Regions from separate parts of the Homo sapiens genome. Here all the other regions are linked to region 2. The links come from fine-mapping of genetic effects on gene expression. A gene starts in region 2. Each other region holds a variant in brackets. All regions are shown on one strand. Distances are from middle to middle. Region 1 holds the start of AVIL (advillin). Region 2 holds the start of CTDSP2 (CTD small phosphatase 2). Region 3 holds the start of TSFM (Ts translation elongation factor, mitochondrial).

The links. PIP is the estimated chance that this variant, and not a neighbour inherited with it, causes the effect. A credible set is the group of variants that fine-mapping cannot tell apart.
Region 1: its variant is the best candidate, but not a certain one, in a credible set for the expression of CTDSP2 in whole blood (TOPMed, PIP 0.67).
Region 3: its variant is the best candidate, but not a certain one, in a credible set for the expression of CTDSP2 in whole blood (TOPMed, PIP 0.54).

What each region holds. Positions count from the first base shown.
Region 1 is chr12:57,812,261-57,822,904 of GRCh38, reverse strand. AVIL (advillin) reads left to right here and starts at 4,171. Exons shown (of 20, transcript NM_006576.4): 1 at 4,171-4,276; 2 at 6,846-6,930; 3 at 8,679-8,753; 4 at 9,482-9,678. The coding sequence starts at 6,865. CTDSP2 (CTD small phosphatase 2) reads left to right here. Exons shown (of 8, transcript NM_005730.4): 8 at 1-2,978. The variant A/T (reference allele first, on the strand shown) is at 2,035.
Region 2 is chr12:57,841,330-57,851,973 of GRCh38, reverse strand. CTDSP2 (CTD small phosphatase 2) reads left to right here and starts at 5,245. Exons shown (of 8, transcript NM_005730.4): 1 at 5,245-5,602. The coding sequence starts at 5,539. It overlaps CTDSP2-AS1 (CTDSP2 antisense RNA 1), which reads right to left. Exons shown (of 2, transcript NR_188077.1): 2 at 8,213-9,715. RefSeq lists silencers at 4,764-4,943, 5,014-5,093, 5,104-5,533, 6,124-6,423, 6,754-6,803.
Region 3 is chr12:57,779,802-57,790,445 of GRCh38, reverse strand. It overlaps TSFM (Ts translation elongation factor, mitochondrial), which reads right to left and starts at 7,659. Exons shown (of 6, transcript NM_005726.6): 1 at 7,588-7,659; 2 at 7,163-7,336; 3 at 4,155-4,283; 4 at 3,284-3,406. The coding sequence starts at 7,644. EEF1AKMT3 (EEF1A lysine methyltransferase 3) reads right to left here. Exons shown (of 3, transcript NM_015433.3): 3 at 7,905-10,191. The coding sequence ends at 9,800. RefSeq lists enhancers at 7,606-7,675, 7,029-7,898. The variant G/C (reference allele first, on the strand shown) is at 5,020.

The DNA.
Region 1 (10,644 bases), 29 kb after region 2:
AGTCTCAAACCTGTGGGGAAGGAGGTTTTCTCCCTGCCCGGGAAGAGGACAGATAACTGATTTCCGTTCTTTTGACTGTGTTTTAAAATTCTCTTTCTAAACACAGAGTGTTGGGCCTGGTTTGTTTCTGACAAAGTTACAGTCCTGGGCCTGTAATGAATGTCGGCGGCGCTGGGGTTGCAGGGAAAAGACAAATCCTCAAAGCGTGGACGTGTGTCCCCATGGCTTGTGGATCAGCTAAGCTCGGGATCATTTCCATAAGTCTGCTTTTCAGGGATTCTCTGCTGGTGCTGGTGCAAGGACTTCTGTTCCAAAGGCTGGGAAAAACTAAGCTGTCCCAGCCCCTCCCATTTCTTGGGCAGGGCTCTTTTCCTGTTGTGTCTTCCCCCAGGGCCTGTCCTGTACCGAGCTCTGTCTGTTCCAGCCTTCATCCTTCCTGGCTGTTGCTTTTCCTCTTAAGGGCCTCAGAACTCTTGCTCTTCCTGGGCTGAGGGGGAATGAGTGTTCTTGCCATTTGCCAGCCTAATGCGCATGCTTTCTGCCTCTGGTAACAGGAGTGAGTGAGCCCCTCAGACCTGCACTCTGGGTGTCTCCTGCTTTCAAAGGTTCTTAATAGTGAATGCTTTAAAATTAAAGTCATCACGAAATGGAAGTTTTCCCAGGGTGGAAAATAAGAGGAAGTGCTGCTGTAATTGGGAGCACAAGGGGCCTCCCAAAAAGGAGCCCCACCTCAGCATCACTGCCTTAATCGTGGCCTCCCTGGGGTGGGTGGGGTTCTCTCCTCCCTCCCTCCCTCCTCCTGGGGTGGGAGGGCGCTCCTGTTCCCATCTCTGTGTTCCCTGGAGGCAGGTATCACAAAGCATTTGTGAATTGCTTTAGGTGCAGGGACACCACCCACTCAGGACTCTTCCCCATCATCCCTTCCATTGCCACACCCTAGATCCAGCCTCAGGAACTAACAAGTTTTGAGAAAAGCAGGTAGTAGAGCAGCAGCTTCGTGCTCTCAGCGGTGGCTGGCTGGCATTTTTCTCTAGCGTTGTGGTGCCACCTTCCCTTCTTGTCCCAAGGTTATAAGGCCTTGTCTTTCTCTTTGGAATCATAAAGTGGAACAGAGTCCCCAGAACTCATGTGGCCATTTCCGCCAGCATCACTCCCCGGTGCCTATGGGGTCCCGGTGTACCTAAAGGGAGAAGGACCCCATGTGCTAGCCAGAAATATACTGTCTCTTGAAGGAAAGCAGGAGCTCAGACTCTTAGAGCCAGCTGTGGCTTCGGACCCAAGGCCTGACCTAGGCTGCTATCCTAATATTGCAGGAGGGGCCTCTCTTCCAAGCCCCACCCTAAGGGTTAGCCCTTGGCCAAATCTTTTGCCGTCTAGGCCCAGCCAGGCTTTTCTGACTAAATAAGCAATAAGAGGCTCTAAGCTGACTGAGTTGCAAGGACCCTTTCCGCCCTCCCTTGGATCTCCATGTTTTTCCAGATGGCGGAAGAGCATGTGCCACCCCCTTTCCTAACAGACTTGTCCAAGTGCTTGGCGTGGGACCCATGACCAAAGCCCAGGATGGCTTGGTGGGAGTGTCCCTGCTGCATCTGCATGAAGCCCCTGCTTTTTAGGCCTCACTCCCATCAGAACCCTGCCTGCCCACCTGCAACTCCCCCCCAACAATGCCATTCCCACTTGCCCCAGAGAAGCTACTCGGCCAAACCTAGCCAGGGTCTGTTCTTGTGGACCAGAGCCAGCCTAGTCATTATTTGCTGTCGGGTTTCCAGTTTCACCGTGTGTTAGGGTGAGGGATGATTGTAAAATTTGCTCCTCAAAGGAATCAGGCCAGACTCAATTTTGGAGGGCAAGACAGGGAGGAGGCCGCTTCATCCCAGACTCTCTTCTAGGGCTTCCCACCATCAGCCCCTCCCACTTGAGACTGGTCTTTGGGAGGCAATAGGCCACCATGCCTGGTCAGCACCAATTCAAGCCATGCCAGGAATCTGCCTACCTGCCAGGTTCAGTTCTTTTAAGGTGCCTCTTCAGGGACAC[A/T]GTGTGTCTCTCTGATTGGGCTTCTAAATCAAAAGCCTGATGTTCGTGTCCCTCTCATAGGGGGAGCTTTGGACACAGGACCAGTTTGGAAAAGGGTCAGGTAAGGGTTTCCACTCTGCACATTGTAGAGGGAACACTCTGTAGGCCCATGGGTCCCTTACTAGAGAGGTTGAGTGAATTTGCCTTCAGTTAACATGGGACCTTCTGTTTAGCTTCCTCTTGCTTCCCAAAGATTTTAAGCATTTTGTAAATGTATAAACTCACCTCTGGTAACAGTGGCCCAGACGCTGCTTTGTGCTAAAAGCATGGGAAATGTAAAGGCAGTCTTTCTCTGGGAAATGGATGCTATTCTATTCTGCTGCCCCTACCTGTTCCTGAGGCCTCATTTAGAAAGAAAATCCCCTCAGAAGGCTGTCTGGCACCCAGTGTCCTAGCCAGGCCAAGTATATGAGAAAGGTAAGTCCATTTTCCCCTTCAGGTCCTCAGTGGATTACTTAACCACTGCTGTCCCTCGGTCCCTTTTTCCTAAACGGGTTTAGTTCTGTCTTTTTTCTCCTTTTTTCTAAATGCTGGTAAATATTTACATTCAGCCAGGGAAGAGGAGGCCAGAGGTCGGGCCAGCTGCCCCATTCTTTTAACGTTGTAGGGCCTGCCCATGGAGCGGACCCTCCTCTTTGGGCCTCGTGAGCTTTTTTGCTTATCATGTTCCATTTCGTGCCGCTTTCCCCCTTCAAGATGCCATTTGGAGGGTAGGGGATCTGCTTCCCACTGTGACTGGGCTATGGGATTCTGACTACCTTGCTTACAGATTCATGGTTTGATAAATTTGTTGTATTCAAAAACTTGAAATGCAGGACGCCATTAAGTGTCTGTTTATATTTTTGGAATATTTGTATTACTTACAATTAATTAATAAAAGTGGGTTTAAAAAACCTTTCCAGGAATGTGAGCTGCCACCAACCTTCATTGGCCCTTAAGTGTTCACTGGGCCCATGGCAAGCACCGCCTTTCTTCTCGCAACCCCTTCCATCATGAAGCAGCTGCACCCCCGGGCTGAGTGGGGTGTTGCACCCACCGGGAGGCCAGCTGCAGATGCCACACAGGGCTTCCGCTCAAGGTTACACAAGTTCTGCTGTGATCAACCCCATTGCAGTCAGGTGCTTAGCACGTGTATATGCTTGATGTCCTATTGACTTCTGGGCATGAACCAGAAGCCCTAAGGGAATGGATTATTATTTTTTTTTTTTTTTTTGAAATGGAGTCTTGCTCTGTTGCCCAGGCTAGAGGCAGTGGCATGATCTCAGCTCACTGCAACCTCCACCTCCCAGGTTCAAGCGATTCTCCTGCCTCAGTCTCCTGAGTAGCTGGGATTACAGGCGCCTGCCAGCACGCCCGGCTCATTTTTGTATTTTTAGTAGAGATGGGGTTTCACCATCTTGGCCAGGCTGTTTTCAAACTCCTCACATTGTGATCCACCCACCTCAGCCTCCCAAAGTGCTGGGATTACAGGCGTGAGCCACCACCACACCCAGCCCTGGGAATGGAGTCTTGATTCTTCTCTGCCCCTCACTGATTCTTCCAAACTGGAAACCCTGAAGCTGAGAGCCCAGCATGGTTCCTGGCAAACAGCAGGCACTCAAATATTGATTGGTTTACTGTATGACTAGTAGAGACCCCAACGAGCAAAACTGTGGCCTAATAAAATTCTGGCTCCTCTCCCAGACTTCCCCTCCCTTTGAGAAATGCCAGAAGCTTCTTAGGGAGGCTCTTGCCAACCTAGACATCACAGGCACTCATGGGGCAGCTCCAGCCTCTTCCTCCTGTCATCACCATAATGCATCCATATCTACAATATGGCAAATTTCATATCCTTCCAACCTCTTTCCTGCATTATTGATGGGCTGTGTGCACTTTTTAAAAAATCAATTAGATCAGGGCGTGGAGCTGGAGTTCAAAGAAGCCTTTAAAAGTCTGCTCTTCTGTTTTGCTGTTTTGAATAGGCACAGATAAAGCTTTCCCTCTGGTTTGAATAAGCCAAGCTCAGTGCTAGGTTGGCTCTGATTGGCCAGGACTAGGAAAATGCGGTTAAGATGCAAACACAAGCAAATATAACCCAGTATCTCTGCGGCCATTACTAAGCTAAGGCAGCAGGACCTGGAGCCTCCTGCTTTGGAGTGGTTCTTCAATACTGCTGCTGCTTACGCGCCGGGAAACTGGGAAGGCTGGTGAGCGAGAAGGCAAGGTAAGGTCTCTGATTTACGGGGGCATGCCAGTTAATCCTCCTGAATGAGGAAGAAATGAAAGGAAGAGGAGCTTGAGAGTCCCTTGGCTTTGTCTTCTGAGATGAGGCTTTTAAAATGAACCAGGAGTCTGGCTGGCCAGTTTTGCAAACTTCTTGTTCAGAAGAACCCCTTAGAGGCAGCTGAACATATAGGGCACATTTTCAAAAGCTGGGAAAGACAGACCCCTTTCACCTATCCCTAGAGAAAGATGGTATGGAGCAAGGCAGGAGGAGTTAAAACCAGCTTCCTGGCCCAGAGAGGTGGCTTACACCTGTAATCCCAACACTTTGGGAAGCCAGGGCATGAGGATTGTTTGAGCCCAGGAGTTTGTAACTTGTGACCATCCTGGGCAACATAGTGAGACCCTGTCTCTACAAAAAAAAAAAAAAAAAAAAAAAAAAAAAAAGCCAAGCATGGTGGTGCACACCTGTGGTCTCAGCTTCTCAGGAGGCTGAGGCAGAAGGATCACTTGAGCCCAGGAGGTGGCGGTTGCAGTGAGCCGTGATTGTACCACTGCACTCCAGCCTGGGTGACAGAGCAAGACCCTGTCTCAAAAACAACAACAACAAAAAACAGCTTCCTCTGCTCAGGGTCCGTCCAAAAGGGCATCTCTGAGAATTACAGGCCACTGGCTTTTAACCTGACATTTCAAAACTGTGCCCCACACCCAAGGGGTTTCTGCAGTCCTCTCAAAGGATACTGAATTAGGATTTAGGGAGAAGGAGAGACCCAGCTTTGGGAGATTTGATGTCAGAACTGTGTTTTCTGTGTGTTCCAGTGTGACAGGAAGTCCCTTCCTGGAGCTTATCCTCTCGCATTCGGGGTGCCTGGCCCAGGGAGCTCCTTGATTCCTAAATTCCTGCTGGGAAACGGGACAGGTTTCAGCCTCTGAGGCTCACAGTCCTAATTGCTGCCGGCTGGTTTGGCTTTTACCAGGGTGACAGTTCTCTGTCTCCAAGGAATGAATTCAGTGGCCCTTGTCCCCTTCCCCTAGTTGGCTCATGGCTTTTGCCTTTAATGACTGCTACGTAGGGTCTGAAGAAAACCCAAACACCATATTTCCTGGCAATTCTGAGCAGCACAGGGTGGGGCAGCACAAGTTATCAAATTAAATTCTCAAACACTGGCTGCTCCGCACCATTGCCTTGCTTTAGTCCTGCTACAGCAGTAGACAAAGCGAGTCTGCTTTGAGCTTTATGGTTTTTTGCCAAAGTCCATACTAGATGGCGCATGCTCTCCAAACTTGGCTTTGTCCATCAAGGTTCAAGAAAACAATGGTCAGACATGTTCCTCTTAACAAACAGTATGTCCCCAAACAGCAAAAATGCATACAGTCCTTTCTGGGTGAATTTTTAAATCTTACATAAATCCATCAACCCCATCCTTTTTCCTTTGCCTCTTGGGAGAAATTAATCTAGCTTTACATTAATTATGCATGTTATCAGATTTCAAGCTCCTTGAGAGCAGGTATTTTAATTCTATAAAGCCTCTACGTGGCCTTGGACATGGGTAGGTGCTTAATTACCCAAGATGCTCCTTGAATACAGATGGTACACGACCTACACAGACTTAGATCTTTACCACTTCCCCCCTCTCCCCACCCTGACTTGCTCAATCCTGAAGGAACTGGAGACGTCTAAGTGTCTGAGGTTCACGCTTCCACACAGAAGCTTGGGTCTGTGTGGGAGGGAAAAAGGAAGCCATCTGTCCGCAGGCCAGACCAGGCCACACCCTGCTAGCACCCAGAACCCTTTGTCCCAGGCCCAGCCCTGCCATTTTACTTTCCTTGCATCTGGAAAGCACAGGGAATATAGTAGTGACAAAAGAAGGAAGGGTTGTTTGAGTTTAAGAATAGTTTACTCTAAAAAAAAAAAAAAAAAAAAAAAAAGGACAAAAGCCAAAGAGAAGGTCAAAGTTGACTGTGGAGAAGGCCTTGCAAGCAGGGAACTTGGGAAGAATTGGAATGAGAGTGAGAGAAGGCAACTGAGTTTGGAAATATTTTTTCTGACTAGCTTTTCTTTCCAAATGCCACTGAACTTAGATTGGTTTAGGAAGGGTTGTAGTACATCAAAGTGGCTAGAAGCACAGGTTTGGGGATCAGATAAGGATTTCATTCTAGAGTGTGATCTTGTACAAGTTATTCAGCCTTTGCAAACCTCAGATTCACACAATGTAAGATGAAGAAACTCACCTTCTGAAAATTAGAGATAACATATGCAAAGTGAATCAATACAGGGCTTAACATATTTATCACCCCTTTGGTAAATAACCATGACGATTACCAGAGCTCTTAAGGGCAATGGCAGGTGGGAAGCAGAACTCATGGGTGGTAATCCCCAGGCCAGCCAGGCTCACCATGTGCACTTGGACAAGTCCTTGCCCCCATCATTGTGAAATGGTGCAGGGATGCACCATGAGGGTGTGGCAGGATGGCTGACAACAGACTGGGAAGCAGCTCGGCAGAAAAACTGGATTGATGCCCACTATGGCAAGAGATATCATCTCCCCTCTTGTTCTGTGATGTTTCAGTCCTGGAAAGACAAGCATCATGCCTCTGACCAGTGCCTTCAGGGCTGTGGACAACGACCCTGGGATCATTGTCTGGAGAATAGAGGTGAGCTGGGCTGGAGGCACCTTACTTGTGACCACTGGCATCTGGAAGCAGTCTGGCTGCCTGGGGCTGCTAGGCAACAGCCCGCCAGCACCCCTTAGCCTATGGTTTGAGGAGAATGAGAGGCAGCATCAAAGTACCTATTTCCCATCCTTCACCTCTCCTGGGTGCTCAAAGCAGGTGGTTGGCAGGTGGAGGAAATGTTCAGCCCCGAAGAACAGGGCTCCAGACAAAAACAGGCTTGTCCTTTAGCCAGCCACCTGCTCAGTGAGTCTGCACTTGCAGGAAACACCCTGGAAAGACAGGTGGGACCTACTCAGCAGACTCCTGGCAGCTTCCATCAGAGAAATGGAACATGTCTTCCACGGGGCACCCTGGCTCCTACAAAATATGGGGAGAGGTGAGGGGGCACTGCAGAGATGAGGAGCTGTTCAGCCCGTCTCCTCTTGGGCTTGGGACCCTCTGTGCGGCTGTGAGCTCCAGCAATCCATAGCTGGGAACCACCCTGGCCTGGGTAGCTCCACCTGCCAGATACGAGGATTCCCCCCAACCCCTGCCCTGAGCCCAGTCAGTTGCTGCTGCCTAAAACCCAGCGATGATGCCTCACTTCACTATCCTCAACCAGGAGGGGGAGTCAGCTCTCCAGCAAGCCTCGCAGAGATTGTGAGTCCCAGGTCACTTCCACTGTTTGAAGGCTTCCAGTTTCCTTAAAAACTAACAGGTACTGGCGGGGTGCGGTGGCTCACGCCTGTAATCCCAGCACTCTGGGAGGCTGAGGCGGGTGGATCACGAAGTCAGGAGATTGAGACCATCCTGGCTAACACAGTGAAACCCCACCTCTACTAAAAATACAAAAAATTAGCTGGGCATGGTGGCAGGCGCCTATAGTCCCAGCTACTCAGGAGGCTGAGGCAGGAGAATGGCGTGAACCCGGGAGGCGGAGCTTGCAGTGAGCCGAGATCGCGCCACTGCACTCCAGCCTGGGAGACACAGGGAGACTCCCTCTCAAAAAAAACAAAAACAAAAACAAAAAACAAGTACTAAAACACGGTTACCAGATTTGCAGTATATTTAACATTTATCACATTTTACATAGAACACACACAAGTATGGCCGCAAGTTTCCCTCACTTGGGGAGTGTGATGAAAATCTACATCAAGGCTGTGTGAACAGTCCTCCAGGGCCAAGCCATACATGCAGTGATAAATCAGGGCCCTGACCCAGACTCCAAATATAAGACACTTGGCACAGAGCCCTGCTGACCGCTGGCACTCTCCAAATGTTATCCTCCACCTCCCACGGCCCCACAGAATCCAAGTGTTCTTTCTTACATGGGCCTGGGCCAGCACCCAGTGGTCAGCGTTGGGAAGAGCGTTGGAGGTGCTGGCACAACGGCTCAGAGAAGGGTTTGTACTTGGTCGTTTATATCCAGCAAAGGGCTGGAGGTGGTTCACAGGTTTCCCACAATAGTGCGAGATGAGATCGGGTGGGAAGTAGAGTGGAGAATAGGGCAAGGGAAAGCAGGATAGGGACCAAGGTTCAGATCCGGGGTGATGCAAGCAGAGCTCACAGAAGCCAGAGGGATGGCCACGTTAACCCTGTGGCTGGCAGCCTCACATCCTGTAAGGTCATTGAGAACATCTCCCCTCCTTCTCCCCACCACCTGCACCGAATGACAGAGAGGAGAGGGAGGCTCATGGGGAAGGGAGGTGGGAGGGGATGTAGCCTATACCCACCCCTTGTCCTTCCAGAAAATGGAGCTGGCGCTGGTGCCTGTGAGCGCCCACGGCAACTTCTATGAGGGGGACTGCTACGTCATCCTCTCGGTGAGCACCCTCCTCCCCACTCCTGTGAGCCTCTCCCCTGGGGCCAGTTCTTGGGCTGTACTGGGAGATGTGCTGGTGAGGGAAGGTAGTCAGTCCCTGGTATCGGTCTCAATGGTTCCTCAGTGCTATGCAGAGCAGACCTCCAGTCTGACTATCAAAGGCCATCATTAAGCCTGGGTTTTTAATGCTGCATAAGAGGATGGGGGTAGGACCCTCAGTCTGAACCTCAGTGAGCCACCCACAAGCAGCACTTCTCCCGGGCCTAGGCCCCACATTAAAGTGGTGTGGAAGAAGGCCTGATAAATGCAAGGCCTGTCTCTAGCCTCAAAGTGCTATTCTCATGGAGGAGACTCACATGAACGGTGCTGACAGGGTCGTGCAGGTGTACAGATGAGCACTGTGCCAGCTGTGTGAGTGCAAGGGACCAAGGGGACCTGTGAGGTAAGCCTGCAACCCGGCTGGGAAAAGATCCCCGTTGGTATCTATTTATTTGGGGAACAACAAGCTGTCAACTTTCCCCAAATGCGGGGAGGAATTTGGGCTGCCAAAGTTTATGCCATGATCGCAGGTCTGCTCGGGGGCCAGGGCAGCTCCCACATCCACTGCAGGAGAGAGGGCCCTCAGTCTGCCAAGGGCATGCACATGTGCTGCATTCTCCCCATAACAGGGGCCAGCAGCAAAGGGGAGGTGAGCTGGCCTCTGACCTGATCTCTCTGACTACCTCCCAGACCCGGAGAGTGGCCAGTCTCCTATCCCAGGACATCCACTTCTGGATCGGGAAGGACTCCTCCCAGGATGAGCAAAGCTGCGCAGCCATATATACCACACAGCTGGACGACTACCTGGGAGGCAGCCCTGTGCAGCACCGAGAGGTCCAGTACCATGAGTCAGACACTTTCCGTGGCTACTTCAAGCAGGGCATCATGTGAGTAGGGGTGCACAGAGCAAGGACAGAAACAGCAGTTTACAGAGGAGGAAACCCAAAAGGCCAACATGCATTATCAAGAAAGTAATCAGAGAAATGCAAATCAAAACAAAGCTGTCACTTCCACCCACTAGAGCAGCAGATTAAACAGCTGGGAGGTGCCAAGTGTTGGCAAGGCTATGGGGAAATAGGAGCCCTTGTGCCCTGCTGATGGAAGTGTGGACTAGCGCAGCATCCTGGAGAGTAGTCAGTGCCACTTGCAAATCCCACTTCTGCATGTGTAACTCACAGAAATCCTCACGTATCCAGGTCCATAAGGGCACATGGACCAGACTGTTCATAGCAGCCTCATTAATGATGTTAGGAAGCTGCAGGCAACGTAGGTGTCCATCACTCGGAGACTGGACATGCACACCACGGAGTATTATGCAGTAGCCAGAAGCAACAGATTAGATACACACCTAACACAAGGACAGAGCTCACAAACATGGTGCTTAGCACACAAAGTAAGAAACAGACTAAGACATATAACAGAATGCCAATTTCTGTTTTAAAAAGCACACGCATGGCCAGGCATGGTGGCTTACGCCTGTAATCCCAGCACTTTGGGAGGCCGAGGCAGGCGGATCACGAGGTCAGGAGTTCAAGACCAGCCTGATCAACATGGTGAAACCCCGTCTCTACTAATAATACAAAAATTAGCCGGGCATGCTGGTGCACACCTGTAATCCCAGCTACTCGGGAGGCTGAGGCAGGAGAATCATTTGAACCCAGGAGGCGAAGGTTGCACTGAGCTGAGATCATGCCACTGCCCTCCAGCCCCGCAACACAGCAAGACACCATCTCAAACAAAACAAAACAAAACAAAAACATGCACACAAAACAACAGGATGGGTTGGGCGTGGTGGCTCACACCTGTAATCCCAGCACTTTGGGAGGCTGAGGCAAGAGGATAGCTTGAGCCCA
Region 2 (10,644 bases):
TTCCTCCTGACAGGAGCACAGGGGGCTGTGGGGGAAAGTGCTGGAGATGGGGTGGGCAGGCTGACTAGGAGATAGATCTTGGGGACCATGGGTGCCCAGCTAGGCATCTAAGCTTCCTTCTGGAAGTCTCAGGGAACTGCTGAATCATTCCATACAGACAGGATCAGGACAAGACAGAGTCAGATTTGCATTTTCTAGGAGAGCTGGGAATGGATTTGAATTTGGGATGTAGAGAATGAAAAAGGTTGATGAGAAGCCTGTTGCCAACCTCCCCTGACACAGCAGCCAGTCATGCATGCGAATGGAAAGAAGGAAAAGGCCTGACAAACCTTTGGGAGTGGAGGAGCCATTGGTTTTCAGGACTGATAGGGGGTAGGCATGAGTTAGGTGGGAGAGAATTGGGTGACCTCAGGTTTCTGGCTTGGGGAACTGGGCAGATGATGGATGCAGAAGGAACAGCTTTGGAGGAAAGGAGAATGATGATGATGAGCATAGTGTCTATTAAGCACTCAGTGTTTCAGGCATAAACACTTCATACATCATCTCATTTAATCCTCACAATAACTTACAAAGTAGGTACTATTGTTCGCTCCATCTTAAGGGAAAACTGAGTCAAGAGGTTAAGTAATTAAGCGGTGGTGTTGGAGTGATGAGCATGCCTGCACCTTGCAGGCAGTGAGGTTTCCCACGCTGTTGCACAGAGGAGCTATCCCCGCTACCACTAGCTCCTCCCTCCCTCTGCAGCCCTCAGCATCTGGCACCCTCACAGCAGTTCAGTCATTAGCCACTGGGTCTCTCTCCCTCACCCCACCCCATCTCAGCCCCGATACTCTGCCCTGGGAAGCCAGGACAGGACCATACCATACAAGCCTTGTGACAGGAGGGCACCAAGCTCTGGAATCTTGGCATTGACATCCACCTACTCATGAACAATACAAAGCAGAACTGAGACTGCAGGGACAATCAGAAAAACCAAGAAAATCAATGTGTTCCTTTTTTTAAAAAAAAAGTTTTTAAGAAAAAAAGTAATATTTCAGTGACATCAGAGATAATCATGAAAGGTCGGTAGCCCAACCTTGTACTTATTTTCTGTGGGGAAAAGGGCAATTAGGCATCTCCCATGGAGGAAGCTCCTCCAGCTGTTTCCCTTTCGCCAGCCTTGGCTCGGGACACCCAGTCCGACTTCAGTAGCCACAGCAGGAGACAGACAGGGACAGCCACTCCATGTTTGCCCCACATAGCCCCCCATTCTAGCATTTGGGGGTAATGGGGACACTGCTGTTGTTTCCAAATTGCCTCTTACCAACCATGCAGTCAGAGAGGCCAGAGGAAAGGGGATACAGCAGGTAGGGAACCAAGTGAGAGTCAGTGGGCTTTCTCCTGGGAGAGTTGTTAGACCTGGCTTCAGCTATCTCCCTTGAACCACCTAAAATGAACCACCTAAAGTTACACAACCAGCAACTGGCCCAGGCCCCGTAGGCAGGATGTTATTTTTGAGGCTATTTTAGGCAGAAGTTAGAAGGTCCACTTGCCTCCCACCACCCTCACCACTTCAACTATAGGAAAGAGGCCCACCATGACCCTACAGAGCTTTCCAGAGTGCAGACCTTTTCCTAGTCATCTGTGGACAGAGCAGTGAGAAGCCTGTGGCATCAAGAGAGCAAGCCCCACCTATGTTTGGGGTTCCAGGCTCCAGTAGCGCCTCCACTGCTTTTGTAGTCTCTGGAAGCACAGGGGTCCTCACCAGGCCTCTTGGGAACTGCCCCTCCTCCCTCATTTACCCCTCCTTGCTGGGTTCTATTTGTACCCTTGTGCCTCTGGCCTTGGAAGGGGTTCTATCTGTTATACATAAATTTTTCTTTGACCTCAGAGCAAGAAATGCTTGAGGACCATCTCCTCTGCATCTTTCAGGGACAGCCAGAGCCCTGAGACACACATGAAGGCATCTACTGCATCCAGGAGTGAAAGTAGCATTGTTTTAACACTGGGTCACAATCCGGTGGTGGTTTGTGAATTCAATTTAAAAGGTCATGGCTGGCACCTTAAAACCATCAAATAGAACACAATACGTGCAATAGAAAATATGAGTGTGCACACATAGCCAGGGTAAGTATTGTCCATGAAACTTTTGTATCATTTATCTCACAACATAAAATGTGTTTCTTGCTGTAGGTCACTGAACAAATCCCTGGACAAAAGAACACTGGTTCAGACATAAAGTCAAGGCCAGGCATGGTGGCTCACACTGGTAATCCTAGCACTTTGGGAGGCCAAGAGGCAGGTGGATCACCTGAGGTCAGGAGTTTGAGACCAGCCTGGCCAACATGGTGAAACCCCATCTCTACTAAAAATAGAAAAATTAGCTGGGCATGGTGGCAGGTGCCTGTAATCCCAGCTACTCAAGAGGCTGAGGCAGGAGAATTGCTTGAACCGGGGAGGCGGAGGTTGCAGTGAGCCAAGATCACGCCACTTCACTCCAGCTGGGGCAACAGAGTGAGACTTCATCTCAACATGTACAAGTCACCTGTTCTGTGTTAGGCACTCTGCTAGGCACAAGAAATCCAGTAAAGAATAAGACATCCCCTAGTCTCAATCCACCTTCTGGTTGGGAAGCCAATAAGCACACAGTTGCAAGATAGGGTGCCAAGTGGTCTGAGAGAGTATGTATGAGGCTATAAAACCCTGACATGAGGGCGGGCATCTGGGAGGGCTTCCAGGAGAGGTGATGCAATTGGAGTTCACAGCAGGAAAAGAGAGCGATAGGTTCTAGTGTCTCCTCCATCCTATAGATAAGAAGGGAACTATGTTAAAGTGTCAAGGGTTCTAGTCTTAAAGTCCAAAGACATCCTGTCTCCTCTTCTTAACAAGCTGTGAGGTCTCAGGTGAGTCAATTAACCTTCCCAGACCAATTCCTCATTTACAAAACAGGCATCTATAAAAATGGGCATAATATCTGCTCTATCAACCTCAAAGAAGTGAGAGATCAAATGAAATAGATAATATATGTGAAAGTACTTTGTAAATTACAAAAGGGGAGGTATTGTCTCTATGGATGAGGAAATGGAAGCATAACGAAGTGAAGTGTCCTGCCCTACAGTGCTATGGGTAGCAGGCCCCTCTAAATCCTCAGTCCTCAGCTCCTGCCTGCATTCCTCCCACTGCAACTAATCTACCTTAGAAGAGGGCAGGGGAAGGGTCTAAAAAGGCCCCCATAGCAACCTGACTATTGAAGATTTACCTTAAAGATCCTATTGTTTTAATGATGGGAGGTGGGTATGTCAGAACTCCTCCGTTTCCCTTTCTGTTAATGAATTAAGATCTACCCAAATTCAGTGTTTAAAGTTACATAAGCATCATTCAGATCTGTAACAGCCACTTTCATTTTGGAAAAACAGCATTTCCATTAAAATGATGTTATATAAAAAGGTTTTGTATACGTGCGTAGGAACAGCAGAAACAGGCACACATGATCACTGTATGGCACACAGGCATATGCAGATCATGACCTCACCTGTCCTCATGAGGAAGGGACCATAGGAAGCAGGTGTCTGATAGTACCTGGCAAGCTTAGCTGTGACCTAGTTGTCCTCTAATCATCAGTAAGACCTGATGCATGTTGGGCAATGGGAACTGCAGCAGGAAGGAAGCCCCTTCCTTGGCAGGGTGAGTGCCACTGAATCACAGAATATTGGGGTTGGATTTAGCTCAGAAGTCACCCAGTGCAATCTCACTCTACACCACTCTTGCCGGCCTTGACTTGAACAGCTACCATTGTCCCAAGGCAGCCCATGTCACCTGTGGACAGATGTAGATCACTGGAAAAGACCTGATATTGAGCTGAAACCAGCCTTTCTGGAGCTACCACCGCTGGGGAACAAAAGCACCCACAACCTTGAGCAGAGACTCCAGGAGCTGTAGCCAGCGGAGCGTGCCCCGAGGCCTAAAGAGCAAGTGGGGAAGGCAGCCTGAGTCCACAAAGCTGAAGCTCCTCCGAGAGACCTCCATCCATCTAAAGGAAGCTGGGACTGTGGGGGCAAAAAGAGAGGGGTAGGATGAGGGAGGTAGGGAGGAGGGGCGGAGTCGGGGCCGCCTAAATGGGAGTAAGTCGGTGGGTGTGAGGAAAGCCCAGCACCTCAGGTCTCATTTTCAGTGTTTTGGGGGACACAGTCCCGAGGTCAGTTCCAGCTCTTATACTCTGGAGTCCTAGGTCCGCCCACACGCACACACCCCTTTCGGGATTCGAAGGTTGTACTTTTTTTTTTTTTTTTTTGAGACAGAGTCTCGCTCTGTCGCCCAGGCTGGAGTGCAGTGGCGCGATCTCGGCTACCTGCAATCTCCGCCTCCCGGGTTCAAGCAAGTCTTTGCCTCAGCCTCCCGAGTAGCTGGGATTACAGGCGCCCGCCACCACGCCCGGCTAATTTTTTTGTATTTTTAGTAGAGACGGGGTTTCACCATCTTGGCCAGGCTGGTCTTGAACTCCTGACCTCGTGATCCACCCACCTCGGCCTTCCAAAGTGCTGGGATTACAGGCGTGAGCCACCGCGCCTGGCCTCGACGGTTGTACTTTTATGTGACTTGGTACGTCCTTGATTCTAGGGCTAAGCAGGGGGGTAAGGTAACTTCCGATCCGCCCCATCCCCTGCTGGAGTCAGGTTAGGCTTAGCGGCTTGTCTTGGTCACCCCTGAAGGGGGAAACCTTTCCACCTTCCCCGAGTGCGCCCTCCGAGAAAAGAACACCCCAGCACAGAGCACCAGAACGTGAGCTTCGGAGCGGCCTTTTAAATAGTTGGGAAGGGGGTGTGGCCGAGGAGACTGGGAGGCCGCAGTCTGGCGCGGGGGGAGTGGCCCGGGGGCGTGGCCGTGGCGCCTGGAATGTTGTTAGGTCCTCTCACCGCATAGTAAGGAGGGGCCACGCCCCTTTTCTCCAAGAGAGCCAATCGGAGCACCGGAACGGTTTCAAGTCTCCCCCGCCAGCCTGCCCGCCCGCCACCCCACCCCCCTTGAGGATTCGCTTTTTCCGTAACAAAATAGCAAAGCTCCCGACTGTCCGCAGCCCCGGCCGCTCACAGATGGAGGGTCCCAGGGCCTAGGACGCAGCCCCCAGCGGGAAGCTCCAGCTGGCCGTGAAGAGGCCGAGTCGAGAGCCGGGAGGCGCGCGGGGGTGGGCGCTGCAGCCGCGGGTTGTTTATCTGGAGTACGGAGGGGAGGGGGGAGCCTGGAAACCGCCCCGTGTCCCATTTCCTCCTCTTGTTTTCGCTCCGGATTCTCCATGTTGGACCCAAACTGAGGAGCCCGGAGCTGCCGCTGGGGGATCGGGGCCGGGGGCACCCGGGGGAGCCGCTGCCCGGGCCGCCCGCCCTTTGTACAGGCCGCCTCCCTTCCCGGTCCGGGGAGGAAACGAGAGGGGGGATGTGAACAGCTGTGGAAGTCGGAGTCTCGGGAGCCGGAGCGGGCCCCCGCCCAGGCCCCCCAGCCCAGCCCAGCCCGCGCGCCCGCCCGTCCTCCCGCCCAGCCAGCCCGGGCCCGCGGGATTGTTAGATGGAACACGGCTCCATCATCACCCAGGCGCGGAGGGAAGACGCCCTGGTGCTCACCAAGCAAGGTAGGGGCAGCAACTTCCCAAAACTTTGCGTCGCCCCCGGGCGCGGAGGGGGCTAGCACAGCCCCGAACCCAGGTCTCGGCCCTTGACCTCCAGGGCTTAGAGCCAGCGATCCCGACTGGACCCCTCCGGTCCATCCGCCCCCGCATCCCGGCTGGCACTCAGACCTCCGTGGGGGTTGCACGGGGATCCCGGCGCCCGAGCGGAAAGGGCGTCTTCGGCGCAGCTGTCACCCTGTCCCGCAACCCCTCCCCCTCGGGGCTGAGAGACGGAGGGGTAGCTCTCGAAGCACTGGGCCACTCCGCGTCCACCGCCTCCGGAGTTGGGGGTGGGGTCGTCACTTTCCTTCACCGCCGCGCGCGGCTGCCCCGGGATCGCGGGGAGGGGTTAGGAAGGTGACAGAGGGAGCCCCAGGTGGAACGGAACCGAGACTGGAGTCCAGCACTTGCAGGCCCCCCCAAGCCCGAGGTCGTTCGGGCAGCTAGCTGGCGGTGACGGCGTCCGGCGGGACTTGGGACCAAGTTCACCTCTTGGAGGCGGGGGCGGTCGCGGTGGGGGAGGGGCCCGGGCCCTGGCGCACCAGACGTGGCGGGTTCCCGGCTCAGCGCAGGCCCCGGGACCTTGGCGGCGTCGGGCTCCCTCCCGGCTGCCTCTGACCAGTTTCGCTGAGCAAACAAGCCCGACCCTGAGGCCCGGCCAGAGCCCCTCCCTGCCCGGTGCGCTCCCCCGGGGCCGGCGCTGCACACACAGAGCCGCGTTTGTTTAGCCCGGGAGCGGTGTCCCTGGTTACATAATTCGCCGGATGGCATCAGACCCGGCGTGGTTCTGAATCGCGCAGCGAAAAAGTGCGAGTTCTCTGTGGGCAGCGGCTGGCGGCCCCCGCCTTCCAGAGCGTCAGGTGGAGGCGCGAGGGGGCCCGCAGGCCCTCGCGGGGGTGAGGCGGAGGCCGAGGCCTCTCCCGGGGCGGGAGAAAGCTGGGGCCCGAGGGTGGAACCTCTTAGTTTGGTCACAGTGGGAGACTCGAAACTCTTTCCCCCTCCGCCACGTTCTTCTTTTGGCCTTGAGGAATGTGTCCAAAATAGCGGCAGATTTTCCGCGGGGTGTAAGGACGAGTGTGGCGTTTCTCTAGAGAGCCCCCCGACCGGGGCCACCTGGCCCCGGAGGCTGGGGCGGGAGCTGGCTCCTGGGGCCGAAGCCGGAGCGCTCCCTCCCCTTCTCCACCGAGCGCGAAGGGCCGGTGCTGCAGTTGAACACACTGAGGCCTAGAGCCTGGTGGGCGGCCAGCTTCGGGGCCTCGTGCGCCCCACGTCTCCCCGTTTGGCAACATTAGTCAGCAGGTCACTAATTCCTGGGGTTCACGTTCCAAGGAGCTCCCCCAACTTCCCTAGGGGCAAATCCGCTGAGTTGGTGGTGTCAGCCTCTCCCAAATTCCCTCAGTGGAACGAGAGGAGCTGGGAGGGGGGAAGGGTGGGGGGAGGGAGGCAGTGTGTTCCTCTTGCATCACTGGCCGGACTTTAAATAAGCCTGCCCTGAGAAGGGATGGCCTTGCCTACTCAGATCCCAACCCCCGAGAAGGCTCCGGCCTCCCTGACCTCGGTGTTGCCATGATTTCTGCTCTCCTGGCTGCATCACTAACCAGGCTGTGACCCAGGCAGCAACTTCACCGCCTCTGCTGGCTGCTCAACTGTGCTGATGGCTGAAAAAGGAAGGGAGCCTGCGTGTGTTTATAGCTCACTCCTGACTCTTCCCACTCCCTTTTTATCCCAGGAAAAGACCCTAAGAGCTAGCCAGAGGGGAAGAAACCTAGATGTGGGGGGATTCAAGAGGGGGCAGTGGTGATGAGTAGGGGGAGGAGCCCTGTGCTTCCCCACTAGGTCTTCCTCTCTTGCAGGGACTCTCTTGCAGGGAGTGTGCCTTGGGCATCGTGGGGCCACGCGAGGAGTAAGGGAAAGCTGGACTGCGCCGGGGCATCTTAGAAATCAGAGCTGGAAGTTTCATCCACCAGGGTGAATGGCAGGCTACAGAATAGATAACAGCAGAAAGCAAAGCAACTGGCTTGACAGTGTTAAGTTGCTGGTGTTGGATTTTCTTGGAGTTAATGTTTCTCCTTTTTTGTGTGTGTGGTTTAAGCCAGCAGCCACTGGGTCTCTCCCTCCCCATGTAATTTTTTATTTTAATTGAGATGGAGTCTTACTCTGTTGCCCAGGCTAGAGTGCAGTGGCGCAATCTCAGCTCACTGCAACCTCCGCCTCCTAAATTCAAGCAATTCTCCTGCCTCAGCCTCCCAAGTAGCTGGGATTACAGGCGCGCGCCATCACGCTTGGCTAATTTTTTTGTATTTTTTAGTAGAGACAGGGGTTTCGCCAGTTGCCCAGGCTGGTCTCGACTCCTGAGGTGATCAGCCCCCTTCGGCCTCCCAAAGTGCTGGGATTACAGGCGTGAGCCACCGCGCCCGGCCCCTCCCCATGTAATTTGATTGCATTCCAGAGAAGACAGACTTTCTTCCTGGGCTGCTTAGGCACCCAGCAACCACTAAACCAACTTTCTGAGTCCCACATCATTTACAAACAAAACCTACGTCTTCAAAACAAAACAAAAAACAAAAGCTGGGGGACTGGGGAAGCAGATGTTTTAATTGGCTCCTTTTGGAGTTCCTTCTTCTCCCCACTCCGTCCTCTCCACAACATCCCATCTCCATGCCTTGCCTGCCTTTGGAAAAAGGGGAAGAAGGAGTGTGAGGTACTTATTATTAATAAGTAAATTTCTGGAAAGAAACAAATTGCTCCTAGCTTGGGTGGCTATTTAGTGAAGTTACTTGCCATTGCGGGTTTTTTTTTTCTTTTTTTAGCATTCTGTTCTCTGAGGTTTAAGGCTGTCTGGGTGCGTTGATGATTCAAAAGTAATTACAGTAGGGGAAGTAGAACAAAGTTGCTGAAAGCATTGATGATAAAAGCACCAAAATTGGATCATCTTCCCAGACAGATGGGTGAAATGGCTTTCTGGTACAGCAAGGACAGGATTGTGTGTAACATCAAAAAGAAAAAAGAAATGTTAATATCAGCTTGGCAAGAATGGCTGTTGATTGCAGCTCTATATGAGATTGTCACCCCATTGCTAAGAGGTTGTGACCTTGGCTTTGGGATTAGATGGGGGAAAGCCAAGGAAACAAGACCCACGCTGTAACCTCCCAACGTGAAATGAGACCTGGTGGAGGCAGCCTCTTCCGGAGCTCAGTGACCCACACGCCTTTTGGAGGAATCAGAGATTTTTTTGTTGTCCATGAATCCTGATGCCCCTTCCTCTCGATGATGCCCTGGATTACCTTCTCACATGCCGAACTGGACAGGTTCTGATAGCTAATTGCAAGGATTCTTCTGAGAGACTGACCATCTCTGAAAATTACGATGTGGCAAGTTTTCAGGATGGCTAGCTCTTTTGTTATCCGCATAAGGGAGAAATTCTGCCTTATTCCCTCAAAAAGTTGTTCAGACACCGTTCACTGTAGATGTAGGCAAGCCTTTAACTTGAAAAGCTTAGACATGAATCTTGCTGGAGCTTCCTTCCATAGCTTGCTATGCAGGGGGCGGGAAGCCTGCATGTTTATAGCTGGCTCCTCCTCCTGCCCTGCTGGTGCCTCTCACCTTCCTTTGCCTACCCTGGGTCTTGGCCTCTTTGTGCTCTCACAGTGACTGCTGAGGCTCCCTCCTGCATCTCCTTTGGAGTTTTTCCCCCATCTTTGGGTAAGGGTTGCAGCCTGCGTGGTGACTTAAGCTTGTGTTTGCTCCTGTCCCCAAAATTGCAGAGGAGCGCTGATAAATCAGCAACAAAGTTTGTAAATGCCTAACATCTGGGGCTGGGGGTTTGCAGTTGACTTGCAGAGCTTTCCACTGAGCAGCACTGGAATTGCTGTGAAAAATCCCTCGGAGGATGGCAGAGGTGGGGGTGTTCCTTTGTCCTCTCTTCTCAACCGTAGAGGTCTTAAAGAAACTGGGTAGCAGAGAGGTGTCATTTCATCCTTTCCATGGGACCTTCCAAATCCCTTATCATGGATTTTGTTAAAATGGTAAATACTAAAGAAGTCACATTTCTAGCCAACGTGAATTGATGCTCCCAACCTGTGAAGAATTAAAGTGTTTGTAAATAAGCATGGAAAAGAAAGACAATATGTAAATATATATGGGATTGTGTGTATGTGTGTACATATCAATACATAGCTTCCCTTCCAATTCCTCCTACAATTTTTTTTTTCTGCTAGCTTTTGGGTAATTTGGGGTATTGTCTTTTATTCCCATCATGGTAAGTTTGGTTCTTAGATTGGACAGAGTGGGGACCAGGGTCAGGGATGGTGGTTAAAGTTTACATTGTTACTTCAAAGCATTGTTTCTGAAGCAAAATTGCTTCAGGCCTGGGTTCAAATACCTTCTTTTCCTATTTGCAATGAGACTTGATAAATCACTTTAGTATTCTGAGTAACTTATCTATAAAGTAGTAATAATGATATCTACCCTTCTATTATACTTGGTACTTAGTAGGTGCTTGATAAATATTAATGTCCTCCCTCTTTACATAGTTAGACTACTCTGTTCGCCCTCCTCCATTCCCCCAAGGACACAGTGTAAACAGCACGTAGTCTTGTGGGTTTTATTTTTCAAGACAGGTGGCCGGGGGTCAGAGGGGACACTGATTGTGGGGGCTTGGGCCTTCTGGAAGGATCAACCTCTTAGGCTTACAAACAGCCTTGCTGCACAGACCCCTTCTTTGTGTCATGTGACTTGGGATGTGATTTGTTATCTGCCTGGGCTGTGGGACTTTGGCCATTCTGTCTGGTGCCTGGGCATCTGGGGGTGGGAGAAGGCCAGGCATGTGCCCCCTGTGAGTCTCTAAAGTCTAAACTTCCTTAGAGGTTCTCAAATATGGATATAACGAATATTCAGGACAACTGTATGCTACATTCTCTCACTGTCTGCTTTGAGAGTTAATGAATTCAGAGAGATTGAGGTTTCTTTTAGGTAATTTTAATAAGAGGGGGAAAAAGAAAATGGGG
Region 3 (10,644 bases), 62 kb after region 2:
AACCACACGCACACAGCACATACACCTGCACTGTCTGCTCGAAGAACAAATGACATCTCAGTAGAAATCAGCACACCTGGCCAGGCGCAGTGGTTCACGCCTGTAATCCCAGCACTTTGGGAGGCCAAGATGGGTGGATCACGAGGTCAGGAGTTCAAGACCAGCCTGCCCAACATGGTGAAACCCTGTCTCTACTGAAAATACAAAAATTAGCTGGGTATGGTGGCACGTGCCTGTAATCCCAGCTACTCGGGAGGCTGAGGCAGGAGAACTGCTTGAACCGGGACCCAGGAGGCAGAGGTAGCAGCGAGCCAAGATCGCGCCACTGCACTCCAGCCTGGGCTACACAGCAACACTCTGTCTCAAAAAAAAAAAAAAAAAAAAAGAAAGAAAGAAATCAGCACACCTAACATTCAAATCTTGATTTCTAAAAACCATTCCCCAACTAAAAAGGACCAGGACTCCTTGAAGAAGTGGCCCATTCCACAGTTGGGGAAAGGAAAGTATGACATAAACCCAAAAGATAAGAATAAACAAAAAAGCCAAAAAGTAAGAAAATACTCAGAAAATAATAAGGGCATATCAAAGGACATTACAGTCAGCTTGCATTGATCAAATCCGCAGATAATTTGAGCATCAAAACGAATAATGAGTTATAACTTATTGTATAAAATAAGAACCCACGAGTCAATGTTAGTGCTGAATAAATCACTAAATAAAAATGAGAAGGGAAATTTATTTCTAACAGTAGAATGACAACTACTAAAACTAACACATTTTGGCTGGGTGCGGTGGCTCACGCCTGTAATCCCAGCACTCTGGGAGGCCAAGGCGGGCAGATCACCTGAGGTCAGGAGTGCGAGACCAGCCTGACCAACATGGCAAAACCCCATTTCTACTAAAAACACAAAAAAATTAGCTGGAAGTAGTAATGCATGCCTATAATCCTAGCTACTCAGGAGGCTGAAGCATAAGAATTGCTCGAACCCAGGAGGTGAAGGTTGCAGTGAGCTGAGATCACAACACTGCACTCCGTCTCAAAGAAAAAAAAATCCTAAATGTGATCACTGTCCTGTGGTTATATAACAATGTCCTTGTTTTTACGAGATACATGCTGAAGGAATAAAGGATCCTGATGTCTGCAACATACTTACAAAAAGATTTTTTTTAAACAGTGATGATGACCGGGTGCAGTGGCTCACGCCTGTAATCCCAGCACTTTGGGAGGCCCAGGTGGGCAGATCACCTGAGGTCAGGAGTCAAGACCAGCCTGGCCAACATGGTGAAACTCCCGTCTCTACAAAAATACAAAAAAAATTAGCCGGGCATGATGGCAGGTGCCTGTAATCCCAGCTACTTGGGAGGCTGAGGTGGAAGAATCGCTTGAACTGGGAGGGAGAGGTTGCAGTGAGCGAGATGGCACCATTGCACTCCAGCCTGGGTGACAGAGAGACTCCATCTCAAAAAAAAAAAAAAAAAAGGGCGATGATAACATGTATATAAAAAGTGATAGGGCCAGCTGTAGTGACCCAAGCCTATAATCCCAACACTTTGGGAGGCCAAAGCAGGTGGATTTCTTGAGCCCAGAGGTTTGAGACCAGCCTGGGCAAGATGGCAAGACTGTCTCTACAAAAAACTTAAAAATGAGCCTAGCATAGTGGTGTGCACATGTAGTCCCAGCTACTCAGGAGTCTGAGGTGGGAAGATCACTTGAGCCCAGGAATTTGAGGCAGCAGTGAACAATGATTGTGCCACTGCACTCCAGGCTGGGCAAGAAAGCCAGATCTGTCTCTTAAAGAAAAAAAGAAGTGATAAAGCAAATACAGCAAAATGTTAATAAATGGCAAATCTGGAAAAAGAGTACACTGGGGCCAGGCATGGTGGCTCACGCCTGTAATCCCAGCACTTTGGGAGGCGGAGGCGGGCGAATCACTTGAGGTCAGGAGTTCAAGACCAGCCTGGCCAACATGGTGAAACTCTGTCTTTACAAAAAATACAAATACTAGGCGTGTGTGGTGGCGGGCGCCTGTAGTCCCAGCTACTCGGGAGTCTGATGCAGAATTGCTTGAACCCAGGAGGTGGAGGTTGCAGTGAGCCAAGATTGCACCACTGCACTCCAGCCTGAGTGACAGAGCAAGACTTCATCTCAAAAAACAAAAACAAAAATAAAAAAAAAAAGGGTACACTGGTGTTTACTGGCAAAATCAAAGCTAAAATTTCTAGTTCAAGTGACTTACCTACTCAATACAATTAAAAAAAATAATCTCAACATTGTTTTCCATATGACTATGTAATGCCAATAATAATTAACATTTACCAAGACATCTCAAGAGAAGGATAAAGAAGATAAAAAAAGTTGGTAATAAACTCAAAAAAATTACTGTGAGTGGTTGGTTCATCTTTGCCTTGGCAATAAGGCTGAGTCAAAGGCAGAATGACATAATTCCTTTCCTTGATCCCTCTATGGATAAGAATATGCTTATTTTCCTAAACCATGTCTTTTCCAATCTCTCTCTCTTTTTTTTTTTCTGAGACGGAGTTTTGCTCTTATTGCCCGGGGGGAGTACAACGGCTCACTGCAGCCTCTACCTCCCGGGTTCAAGCGATTCTCCTGCTTCAACTTCCCAAGTAGCTGGGATTACAGGCAAGCGCCACCACGCCCAGCTAATTTTGTATTTTTAGTAGAGACGGGTTTCTCCATGTTGGTCAGGCTGGTCTTGAACTCTCGACTTCAGGTGATCTGCCTGCCTCGGCCTCCCAAAGTGCTGGGATTACAGGGGTGAGCCACCACACCTGGCTCCAATCTCTTTATTTAGAAATTCTTTCCTAAGACCATTCCAAATTTCTGAACACAAAGCCTCAAATGGCTTCACTTGATCTGGCTAACTCCATTTCACTGGCATGCATGCATTCAATCATTCATTCATTCATCTGACAAAGATTTACTGAGCTCCAACTAAGTAGTGGGCCCAATTCTCTTTCACCAGAGATACAACAGTGAAAAGACAAATTCCCTGCCTCATAAAGCTTACATTCTGCTGGGGAAGATAGACAACACACAGATAAATTAAAATGTAATATATAAGCACCATAATAAAAAATTTTAAATGCAGCATGACACGGGGATATAGCAACGGGGGAAGGGTAATTCTATGCAAAGAGATAGCATTTAAGCAGAGATGTGAAGTAACAGAATGAGACATGAGAATGTCTACAATAGGAACAGCAAAAGACCCAATGAGGACAGCAAATTCAGCACACTGGAGACAAATCCCAAACTTACTTTACTGTATGCAGAGGGTTGATCCTTTAGGGTCTGACAATGCATCATGGTTCCAAGGGCTACTTGCTGGACCAACAGTTGAAATTTTAAATTTCTAGAAACAAAATCTGTCTCACAGTTTACCTGTGGGAACAAATTGATATAGCTGTATAAGCTGTTTAATGATAATTTCCAAAAGTGCCTTAAGGCTGGAGAATAAATCAAGATACTGATAGAACAAGCTACAGACTCAACGGAAAAAAAATGACTCCAAAATTTTAAAGCTACGCTTCCTCTCCTAGCCTGGAACAGAATGAAGTGATTTATGTTGGGCCAGTGAGTTAGCAATAGCCTGTATATTCAGAAGATGGTTCAATAATGTCCTGAAGGACTCACCACAAGTTCACCACTTACCTATGTCTGCACACCATCATCACCTCATTCTCCAGCCATCCCAACTCCAAACCACTTATGCTATTATCTTGTTTATCCCCATCTCTCACTCTAAACTAATCCACATCTGACTCTTCACCAATTATGGCCCCCAAACCTCCTCTAAAATACCTACTCTCTATTCAGCAACAATTAATATAATTAACTTGTAATCTAACTGTTCCAGGAAACAATCAGTGACAAGGTGTAAGCCTGTGCCAGACTCACATTCAGGAGTAATATTCTAGACTGTCAGGCCATTTCTCATCAACACACCAGTACATTTCTATACTTAAACGAATTCGTAACTAATACCCAGGGTTTCATGAGTTTAACTTCAACTACGCTTTATGGTTCTTAAACAGATCTCTTCTTCAAGAACAGGCCCCTTTAGGGCCTACTACAAGCTTTACACCCAAGGGACAGCTGTTCTTGGTATCTGGAATTTCCAACAACTCACCTCTACTAATACAGTTGTGTTTCCTTCCTGCAACAGCCCAATCAGGCCTTCTTTGGTCTTCCTCCCTTGGAGCTTGGCAGCTTTGCTCCAGCCCTCCTTCTGGGCCTCCTTGTGGAGCCAGATCTCTGCCTGTAAATTGAGAGGAAAAAGAGCAGACAACAAAGTCACAGAATTTAGCACTAAATGTAGTTCTAAGATATACTCAGGTTTCCTGATTCTCTAAATTCTCTAACAGAAACTAAAGTAATCTATCATTTACTGGCAGTCTACCACTAAATGCCAAATACCAGGTATTATTATAACTGGTGCCTTGGATGAATCTAATCTTCACAACAACCCTATGGGGCACACAGTTGTATTTTCTTTATACAGTTACGCACCACATAACGATATTTTGGACAATGACGGACTGCATATATGATGACGGTCCCTAAGATTATAATGGAGCTGAAAAATTCCTATTGTCTAGTGACACGGTAGTCCTCCTAACATTGTAGGGCAACATATTACCTACATGTTTGTGGCAATGCTAGTGTAAAGAAAACGTCTGTGCTGCCAGTCCTATTAAAGTATAGCACATACAATTACATATAGTACATGATACTTGAAACAATAATGAACAACTATGTTACTGGCTTATGTATTTACTATAATACATATGCTTTATTGTTATTTTAGAGTGTACTCCAACTTATAAACTACTCGGGTGGCTGAATTTCTTGAACCCGGGAGGCGGAGGTTGCAGTGAACCAAGATCTATCGCGCCACTGCACTCCAGCCTGGGTGACAAAGTGAGACTCCGTCTCAAAAAAATAAAAAATAAAAAAATTTAACAGTAAAACAGCTTCAGGCAGGTCCTTCAAGA[G/C]GTATTCCAGAAAAAAACATTGTTATCATAGGAGATGACAGGTCCATGCCCGTTACTGCCCCTGAAGACCTTCCAGCAGGACAAGATGTGAAAGTGGAACACAGTGTTAATGATGATGCCACTCCTGTGTAGGCCTAGGCTAATGTATGTGTTTGTGTCTCCGTTTTTAACAAAACAATTTTTTAACTTAAAAAAAGTTTTGGCCAGGCGCTGTGGCTCACGCCTGTAATCCCGACACTTTGGGAGGCTGAGGTGGGCGGATCACAAGGTCAGGAGATCGAGACCATCCTGGCTAACACGGTGAAACCCTGTCTCTACTAAAAATACAAAAAATTAGCCGGGCGTGGTGGCGGGCGCCTGTAGTCCCAGCTACTCAGGAGGCTGAGGCAGGAGAATGGTGTGAACCTGGGAGGTGGAGCTTGCAGTGAGCCAAGATTGTGCCACTGCAGTCCAGCCTGGGGGACAGAGTAAGACTCTGTCTCAAAAAAAAAAAAAAAAAAAAAAAAAAAAGATATTTCAATAAAAAAAGTTGTTGTTTTTTTTTTTGAGACAGAGTTTCACTCTTATTGCCCAGGCTGGAGTGCAATGGCACGATCTCGGCTCACCACAACCTCCGCCTTTTGGGTTCAAGAGATTATCCTACCTCAGCCTCCCGAGTAGCTGGGATTACAGGCCCTTGCCACCACACCAGGCTAATTTTATTTTTTTTTAGTAGAGACGAGGTTTCTCCGTGTGGGTCAGGCTAGTCTCGAACTCGCAACCTCAGGTGATCCGCTTGCCTCAGCCTCCCAAAGTTCTGAGATTACAGGCATGAGCCACCACGCCCAGCCAAAAAAAGTTTAAAATTTTAAAAACAGAAAAAAGCTCACAGAAAAAGTGCATAAAGAAAAATATTTTGGTACAGCTGTACAATATGTGTTTTATGCTGTTATTACAAAAGAGTCCAAAAATTTAAAACATGTTAAAAGTTTATAAAATAAAAATGTTACATTAAACTAAGGTTAACTTATTATCACAGAAAAAAATTTCTTATAAATGTAATGTAGCTTATGTGTACTGTGCTTTAACGTCTACTATAGTGCACCATAGTGTCCTAAGGCAGGCCTTCATATTCACTCACCACTCACTGACTCACCCAGAGCAACTTCCAGTCCTGCAAGCTCCATACATGATAAGTTCCCTATGGAGATGTATCGTTTTTTATCTTTTATGCCTATTTACTGTACTTTTTCTATGTTTAGATACACAATACTTACCACTGTGTTACAACTGCCTACAGTATTCAGTCCAGTAACATTTTGTAACGGTTTGTAGCCTAGGAGCAGCTGGCAATTCCATATAGCCCAGGTTGTAGTACAATATACCATCTAGGTTTGTGTAGGTACTCTATGATGTGCATAAGCCAAAATCTCCTAACGACGCCATTTCTCAGAATGTATCTTCCTATTAAGAGACGCATGACCGTACAGGCAAAAACTACACAACTCTGAAAGATTAAGATGTCTAAAGTCAGCCGGGCGCGGTGGCTCACTCCTGTAATCCCACCACTCTGGGAAGCCGAGGCGGGCGGATCACCTGAGGCCAGGAGTTCGAGACCAGCCTGGCCGACACGGCGAAACCCCATCTCTACTAAAAATACAAAAAAAAATAAAAAATAAAAAATAAAATAGCCGGGTGTCGTGGCGCACGCCTGTAATCCCAACTACTCAGGAGGCTGAGGCAGGAGAATCGCTTGAACCCGGGAGGCGGAGGTTGCAGTGAGCCAACATCGTGCCATTGCACGCCGGCCTGGGCCACAGAGCAAGACTCCGTCTGAAAAAAAAAAAAAAAGTCTAAAGTCAGACAGTGTGGGGGCCCCACAATTTGACTCCTGAACAATCTGACTCCAAAGCTCACACAAACCCTTTCAGCTCCAGGCAACAAGAAACACCGTAACAGTCTGGTTTGTTAATCCTGGGATACTCAACTGCTTTCAAATAAGACAAAGTCAAGGCCAAGGTTGTCATTTAAGCCAGATTTCCACTTAGGACTGTGCCATTATGGTCACTGAAGAGCAGTCTAACTTTATGCTCCCCAGCGTGACCGCCCCAAGAGTCTGAGGTCGAGCTCTAGTACTCCGCCCTGCACCCCTCCACACACACACCTGTTTGAGGTCCCCGCCACAAGTCTCCAGAGCTTTCTTGCAATTTACAAAGGAGTAGCCTGTTTTCCGCCGCAGCTTCATGAGGAGCTCCTTGCTGGAGGCCGAGGCAGACAGACGGGGCCCAGCATAAAATGTGTGCCTTGGCTGGGGCGACTGACGCAGAAGAGACCCAGCCTAGATGAGATAAGAAAGGGATGAGGAGCAGGAAGCAGCAAACTCCAGAGGGTGAAGGGTACACGGGCAGGGAAGCGACCTTAGGGAGCGGACAGTGTGCAAAGGGGGGTGCACCGGGGCTGGACTGGGCAGAGGCAATGCTGTCGGGGAAGGTGAGATGGAGTCAAACGAGGTTGGGAGGAAGGGAAAGGTACAGGCGCACAGGAGAGCTGCAGGGACAGCAGGTCGGTACCAGCACCAGGACTTCTCACCGGGTAGCTCCCGGTCCGCGCGACCAGAAACACGCGCAGCGACCGCAGCAGCGACATCTCTCTAGCCGCGATAAACACCCTCCGGCGGGCGCACTGGTGAGGCAACAAACCTACGGCGCGGCGGAAGGGCCAGAATTCTCCAGCGGAACGCACCAAACGAGTATGGTGCCACCTGCTGGCCGGAGGAACACAGTCCTCGCCTCTACTTGATTTCTTGAGACGACACATTTCATACGGGAATTACCCCCCACCTCCCACCCCAGGTAAAATAACAGAAACCAAGAAATAAAGTCGTCACAAAACAACAACACAAGAAATGTGGGTAACATTTTATGTTTATTTTCAATGCGCATTTATATTCATTATCCATTTATGACTCACAACAAACTTGTGTGGTTGGTGAATGGGTTCGAGAATTTGTCCAAGGTCACCTAGGAAGGCAGGGGTGGAATCCATTAAACAAAGCGAGTAAATATTTATTGAATGAGCACAATATCTGTTGAACACCTGTTGTGTGCCAGGAACTGTGTTAGGCTTCAGGGGTTTAGACAGGAGTAAACCACAGCCCTACCCTCCAAGGTAATTTAATGGTGAGAAAATGAGAATCACAAATGTCCATGCAAGACAAATTAAGGTCCCATAAGATGAACCTTATGGGTCTCAGGGAGAAAGAAATCACATTCAAGCAAGAGGCTCAGGAAAGAGGCAAAGAATAATGAAGATTTTGACAGGTGGCAATAGCCTTTCAGGCAGAGGATTATCATAAAGAGTGTGAAAGAAGTCAGAAAACTTTAGTGTGGTTTTAGAGAACAAAGAGTACATCTTTTGTAATTTGGCCAGAGGTCCAATACACGTAGCAAAGGAGTAGGAAATGCAATAGGAAGGTAATTTTGGATCACATGGACACAGACTAAGTACCAAGCAGAGGAGCTTGTTCTTGCTTCTACAGGAAGTGAAAGCTAATCAGAGCTAATTTTGGAAGATCACAAGAGTTTGCGGAATGGACTGAAGGAGAAAGCATGGAAGCAGGGAGTCCAGAGAAGGTGACTATGTGCCTAAGCAGTAAGTAAAGAGAGCCCCAACCAGAAGTACCAATGTGGGAAGAGAAAAGAGGTTAAGGCAAAACACATTAGGAACTGTGTTAGGCTTCAGGGGATTAGAGATTAGGAAGGAAGGACTGATGAAGCTAAAGAAAAATCAAAGATGAAAAGAACTTAGTACTAGGTACAGTATTCTTCTGCACACAATGATGTTCCGTGATCAAGGCTCTAACTCTGGAAAGCATGAAGAAATACAGTCCAAAGGACAGCTCTGCAGCCTTAGCTTCAGAGCTAGGAGGACTTGACCCAGTTAGAGCCATGGTTCCACTAGACTCTATCTCTAAAAAGCAGGAAATGGGTGGTTTGAGGCTTCTTCCTTCTCAGCTCCTGAGTAAAAGTTGGGTTCTTGCACAATAGATTTTTAAGGCTTAATTCTTTCTTAAAAAAAAAAAAAAATCCTAGGCTAGCACAGTGGGCCATGCCTGCAATCCCAGCACTTTGGGAGGCAAGGCGGGTGGATCACTTGAGCCCAGGAGTTTGAGACCACCCTGGGCAACATGGCGAAACCCTGTCTCTACTGAAAATACAAAAATTAGCCGGGTGTGGTGGCGCATGCCTCTAGTCCCAGCTACTTGGGGAGCTGAGGCAGGAAGATCATCTGGGCCTTCAGAGGTTGAGGCTGCAGTGAGCTGTGATCACACCACTGCACTCCAGCCTGGATGACAGAGTGAGACCCTGTCTCAAAAAAAAAGAAAAAAAGAAAAAAAAATCCCACAGAATTTTTTTAAAGTCCATTCTGTGTAAACAGCAACAGGAATGGAAGTGATCAGTGACAGTCTGTCTACAATCACTGCTCTCACATCCCATATATCTCCCTTACCCCCTAAAAATCCTGGATACCTTACCATCCTCCTTCTCTGAGAACAGGAGCCAGGAACCTCCTTGGTGTTCTAACACTAGTGCTGCCAGAACTCTGGGATTCCTTGTAAGCAGGCACCTCACTGCACCTGCCCAAGAGTATCTGGGGTAACAAAGAGGGAAGGAGGAAAGTGAGAGAGGCCAGGGAAATCCATCCTTTTTGGTCCTCATGTTTGTGGCTCTGGAAATATGGTTTTTGAGATACACAGTTCCTTCATTAGAGCAAGAGATTGAGAAGAACAGCAAGGGTGATGTCAAGCAGGTCTTGGTTCCCTGTGCCTGGCCCTATAGATGTTGACATTTTCATCCTCATCCCGCTGAGCCAGCTCCAGTTGGAAATGCTGGGGCAGGAGGTGCTGAAAGAAGCTCTCTGTCCCATGCTCCTTTCTCATCTTGGAGGCCAGATAGATGGTGCCATGGGGCCTGCACAGGTGTTGGAGGGTCCCCAGCAGCAGAGGGAAGGTGGGTTCCAGGTACACGATATCAGCCCCCAGCACCAGGTCATAGTTTGCAGGGAAGACATGATGGTCAATCCCCCAGGACAAGGCACGCACCTGGGCCTGGCCTCCAGCTGGCACATTGGCCTGGACGTTGCCCTGGATCTGTTCTAGGGCCAGGGGCAGGTCAGTGATGGTAACATCCCCCCCTGAGAGAGAGGAAGGAGGAAAAATGCAAGTCAGAGGAACCAACCAAGGGTTCTTGGCTCCTGCCTGGAAGGTCCAGAGACCTCAGAGCATAGAGGACAATGTCTTGACAGCCCAGAGCCCACACTGGCTTTTAGTTGCCTCAACCTCCATTTCACCCACTGCTATTCTCATTACTCTACATTCTACAACATCAACATTCTCTCTGAGCTAATCTTCAACCTCTCTGGCCAACACACAACAATCAGATGTCAGCAGAAGCCTGGGCAGGACTAAGCTGGAGATGGGTTCTGTACCCACCCCCACTGACACAAGCTCGCCTTAAGGGTCTGGAAAGCTTCCCAGAAAATGTGACCTCAGCTGAGCCCTAAAGGACAAGTAGGAGTTAGTCAGGTGGAGCTTTCCAAGAAGAGAACAGTGAGTACAAAGGCCTGGGAGTGAAAGAGCATGGCATA